Regions from separate parts of the Homo sapiens genome. Here region 2 is linked to region 1. The links come from fine-mapping of genetic effects on gene expression. Tissue or cell type: naive CD8 T cells. Region 1 holds a variant in brackets; the other region holds the start of a gene. All regions are shown on one strand. Distances are between the middles of the regions.

The links. PIP is the estimated chance that this variant, and not a neighbour inherited with it, causes the effect.
Region 2: it holds the start of FAM174B, and the variant in region 1 is fine-mapped to the expression of FAM174B in naive CD8 T cells (Schmiedel 2018, PIP 0.93).

Annotation. Positions count from the first base shown.
Region 1 is chr15:92,830,697-92,833,379 of GRCh38, reverse strand. No RefSeq gene overlaps it. Among named protein-coding and RNA genes, the nearest start is that of CHASERR, 51 kb to the left of the region's middle. RefSeq lists enhancers at 246-305, 1,062-1,261, 1,642-1,691. The variant G/A (reference allele first, on the strand shown) is at 1,100.
Region 2 is chr15:92,654,499-92,657,181 of GRCh38, reverse strand. FAM174B (family with sequence similarity 174 member B) reads left to right here and starts at 1,407. Exons shown (of 3, transcript NM_207446.3): 1 at 1,407-1,866. The coding sequence starts at 1,523. RefSeq lists silencers at 1,231-1,280, 1,561-1,760, 1,861-1,910, 1,961-2,030.

The DNA of each region.
Region 1 (2,683 bases):
GGCAAAACACCATCTCTACAAAAAATTAAAAATTACCTGGGCATGGTGGCATGCACCTGTAGTCTCAGCTTCTCGTGAGACTGAGGCAGGAGGATTGCTTGAGCTAGGAGAGGTTGAGGCTGCAGGAAGCCAAGATTACGCCAGTGCACTCCAGCCTGAGTGACAGAGCAAGGACCTGTCTCAAAAAAAAAGAGAGAGAGAGAAATCTTTGTCTATAAATATGCACATCCTACTGGTTCTGTTTCTCTGGAGAGCACTATTACAGCCTGCTTTGCTAGTATCAACAAAACCACGGGCTTCTTGTCCAGAAGTTTTTGCCCCTGCTTCATAACTGCAAATGGAATTTTCATGGAAAATATTTCCTGTGTTGCTATTTTTTTTTTTTTTTTTTTTTTGTCATCCAGGCTGGAGTTCAGTGGTGCAACCTCAGCTTACTGCAACCTCCCCTCTGGGTTCAAGCGATTCTCATGCCTCAGCCTCCTGAGTAGCTGGGACTCCAGGTATGCGCCACCACGCCTGGCTGATTTTTGTATTTTTCATAGAGAGGTGTTTCACCACATTGGCCAGGCTGGTCTTGAACTGACCTCAGGTGATCTGCCTGCTTCGGCCTCCCAAAGTGCTGGGATTACAGGCATGAGCCACAGTGCCCAGCCACATTACTTCTTAATAATAGATAATGTGCCCTAATATACAGTATTTACATAAAGCCTTGCAGCAAGGTGGCAGTTTTCAGCCATTTTTTGAGGAGGATGTGAACAGGAGCCGTTACACGGCTCATCAGTCATCTGTTGCAAAGAAGCTGTGCTCAGCAGCGCAGAAGGATATCTTTCATTACTGGAAACCGTGAATCAGCTCGAGTGAAACAGGGCTCTGTCAGCTTATAACACTTAATTATGTTTTTAACTCCATAAATTAGTTCAAGTAAAGCCGTTTGAAAATAGCCAATTTCCAGTTTGAACTTACAGAAAATTAATGGCAAGAATGCAAACTTCTAATGTGTTAAGAAATTATTTGAATTTCTTAACTGTGTCTCCCACTAAAAGTTTGTGCTTTAAATTTTGTGTCAGTTCTGCATCAGAATTATTCAGTTTCCTCTTAT[G/A]CAACAAACCCTAGAAAATTCTAAAGTTTCAGAATAAGAGCATTTCCTAAAGAAGAGAAAATATATTGGGGGTGGTGGGGGGGAATGGGATCAGTACGTGGCTCAAGTTTTTCACCCTTGAGGAGTTAAGAAAAACACTTCAACATAAGGACAAAAGCTCCCTTGTTTAAGCACTTCCCCAGCTGCACTTCAACTAAATATATCCTGGGCAGAGTGTTTTCATTTCTCCACCCCTCTCCTGAGCCAATCACATGGTGACAAACAGCTCGGAGGCCCCTTGGGACTAGCACTGCAGAGGTACAGGCTTGGTTACAGGGCTTCGCGTTCCTTTCCAGCACAGGCCTGCTCTGGGCCGCCCTGCCTCCCCCAGAGGCTGCAGGGAGCCCCAAGCAGGCGCATTGCGGGCTCTGCTCAGAGAGACGCCTCCACGGGTTAATTCAGCGGCCTCTGTCTGGAATTCATGCACCACCTGGGCTGACAGCATGAATGACTCATTGTTTCCCCTCTGAACAGGCTGAGGAGTGCTTCTTGGTGTCAATAACTGAGGCAAAGTAAAATTGTTTTTTCCCTTTCAACATGACCAATTTTCTAAGACTGAATATAGAACTGGAAATCTGCAGGGTGTGTTTCTTCTGCGGCAACGGTAGCCAAGGTTACTGCTTTGAGTTGGTCTGCAGGGACAGAGGATTAAAATTTACTGTCTATAAACAGAAGAAGGCCTAAAGCCAGAGCTCCTTTATTTACAGCTTGTGTCATGGTTTTATAAAATGAAGGAAACTTAATTGAAACCTCTAGTTTGTGTAAACCTGGGATCTGACTGTACACAATACCTGATTTTATTTCTAATACCCGTGATTTGTATAAATGAAGATTTTGATGATAATTTTCCCATAGCTAAGTATAAGACATGTATGCTTTGAAGTCCATATATGAATCTTCCATACCAGCATTTCCAAAGCAGTGTATTAATAATTATGCCCCACCTTCAATTTTCCTATATGGCACCCTTCTCATTTTCAGTTACTTTTAGTTTCCTTGGGAAACTGGACTGGTTGATATTCCTGGACTATGGGATCTTTTTGCCTTGCTTACGCATATCTCAGTCCAAAAGCTTGACAGCCAGAACTATACAGATATTTTACTACCTTTCTGCAAGTGTGCGTGTATAACACTCTTGTTTCTTTGAACTCTTGTTTCTTTGGCCTCTTATACTTTCCTAAACTTTAGGTGTTTTTTTAAAAAAATTCAAAAAGAGGCCGGGCGCGGTGGCTCATGCCTGTAATCTCAGCACTTTGGGAGGCCGAGGGGGTCAGGTCACGAGGTCAAGAGATGGAGACCATCCTGGCCACTATGGTGAAACCCCATCTCTACTAAAAATACAAAAATTAGCTGGGCATGGTGGTGTATGCCTGTAGTCCCAGCTACCCGGAGGCTGAGGCAGGAGAATTGCTTGAACCAGAGTTGGAGACTGCAGTGAGCCAAGATCACACCACTGCACTCCAGCCTGGCGACAGAGCAAGACTCTATCTCAGAAAAAAAAAAAAAAAAAAATTCAAAAAGAAAGATGTAGAAAAAAAAGAAATA
Region 2 (2,683 bases), 180 kb after region 1:
GACTTGCTTCTAACTGATAGAATATGACAAAGGTGTGAGAATGTCACTTCTGTGATGAGGTTTCATAAGACAGTGACTTCTGTCTTGGTAGGTGACTCTTTCTATTGCTATCTTGACTTGCATACTTTGATGAAGCAAGTTGCTATGTTGGAAGGGCCCCATGCCAAGGAACTGAGGGCAACCTCTGGCCAACTGCCCCAAGGAAACTGAGGCTCCAGTCCAACAGCCAGTGCAGGGCTGAATCTGGCCAAAAAATGCTGATTGAGCTTGGAAGCAGATCCTTCCCCAGTTGAGCCTTCAGAGGAGACCCCAGCCCCAGCTGACACCTTGATTGCACCTTTGGGAGAGGCTCTGAAGCAGAGAACCCAGGTAACCTATGGTCAGTTTCCTGACCCACAGACTGTGAGATACTAAATGCATGTTGTTTTAAGCAGCTAGGTTTTAGGGCAATTTGTTATGCTGCAGTAGACAACTAATACACTGTACTATATTTGTCTCTTTTTCCAGCAGGACCAGAAATGGGCTGTTTAAGGTCCCTGGGACCTTGTCATGTCATGTGTATTTAACTGTTTACCCACCACCGAAAAGCTTCCTGCCAGGACCCATCTGCAGTGTAAAAGGGGAACCCTGAAGCCCTGGGAATGGCTCCTAGTACTTCAGGTAGGGGCTCTGTGTCCCCATCAGTTTCCACCTTTGGGCCTCCCACTAGAACTTCCTTAATTGTCTTTCTCCACCTAAGCATCATTTAGCTTACAAACCAGAGGCAGCAAGCCAATTATTCCCCGGAGAAACTTCAGCCAGGCAGGGGGGCATTAACCACACCAACTGGTGTTCCACAACAAAGGTATGAGAGGCAGAGATTCACATCCCAGTCCGGTTCGTAAGCAGAGGCGCATGAAATAAGAAACCCCTTTTGAGAAAGAGGGAAATTAGGGGAGATACTGAAATTATGCGTTGCATAGGACATCAGGCAACCACTTCACTGTCGGCTTCAGTTTTTGATCTGCAAGATGGGAGTCTACTTCTAGGTCCCATAGTTTTTGATTCTTAGTCTGACACAATGTGGGTTGCTGTGAGCTGGCTCTTTGGGTGCCAAGTCAGCTATCAAATGTGGGTAACAGAATACCTGTCTTCAAAGGGGGTTGTAGAATTAAATGAAATAAATAAAACACGTGAAACGTGTAACACAGGGCCAGCCCAAGTGTCATCGTGGCAGTTGCTGCTTCACCACGGGGTCTCAAGTCCCGAGGAATTGGGGTCGCGGGCGAGCGGAGCGCAGCCGGGACCCAGGCCGGGTGGCCTGCCCCGCCCACGTGGGGCCGCGGCCCGTCGAATGACTCCTTGCAACGTGTTGGTGGTGGCGGCGGCGGTGGCGCGGGCTCTTCCGGGCGCCGCAGCTTCCTGCCAAGCACCGCGCAGCCGCCTCCGCCGCAGGATCCCCCGGTGCAGGCCTCCGTGCTGGTGCGGATCCTGGAGCTCAGCCGCGCGCGCCCTGCCCGATCCTGTGCCGACCCACCGCACTATGCGCGCCGTGCCGCTGCCCGCCCCGCTCCTGCCGCTGCTGCTGCTCGCGCTCCTGGCCGCTCCCGCCGCCCGCGCCAGCAGAGCCGAGTCCGTCTCCGCGCCGTGGCCCGAACCCGAGCGCGAGTCGCGGCCACCGCCCGGCCCGGGGCCCGGGAACACCACCCGGTTTGGGTCTGGGGCGGCGGGCGGCAGCGGCAGCTCCAGCTCCAACAGCAGTGGCGACGCCTTGGTGACCCGCATTTCCATCCTCCTCCGCGACCTACCCACCCTCAAGGCAGCCGTGATCGTGGCGTTCGCCTTTACCACCCTCCTCATCGCCTGCCTGCTGCTGCGCGTCTTCAGGTGGGCCCTCCCGCCCTCTTCCTTCCCCCGCCGGCCGACAGGGCGGCATCGCCAACCTGCTGTCGCCGCGCGCCCGCCCCACCTGCACGCACAGGTGCCCTGGTGCGCCCCAGCCAGCCGTGTGCCTCCTGCCCTGCCCGGGAGAGTGGGTGGGGGGCCGGGGTGTGCTCGTCTGGATTTTCCTGGTACATGTTTTAGGAATTTTCTTTCCTCTCTTTAACTATATATATAAAATAAATATGTGGTTCCCATTTGTTGGCTTTCTGCTAATGCTGAACACTAACAATAGCGCTCTGAATTCTGACAGCGTTTCCCATAATTTATTTTTATAATCATTTCACAGATGAGGAAAACATTTTCAGAGAGGCAAAATGGCTCATCTAAGGTAAACTCAGTGGTGGAGGTAGGACTTGAACCCAGGCCTGTCTAACTTTAATCTCGCTACTCCCTCTCCCTTCTACCATCTGCAGCTCCCTCACGCCCCGCCTACTTTTTCTTCTTCTTCTTCTTCTTCTTTTTTTTTTTTTTGCTACTGAAAGAAGCAGTTTCTAGTGTGGGGGGTAGTAGAATTGCCTCCAGAATTACGCTGGAGGGGTGCTTTGCACCAGGGGTTGGAGCTGAGCTTCAGGATTCTAGGCGACCCTTGGTGGCCTCCCTTATTTTCTGTTGGTGGGGGACACAGACGGCTTTCCTAGGCTCCTGCCTAAGTTGCGCTAGATGAACATTCACAGGGGCATGAGGGATCTTGGAGAGCCTTTTGTAGGTTGCTCACGTTCAGGGATAAAGTGTCTGGTAAATTAGGAAGGATGTCCCAGGT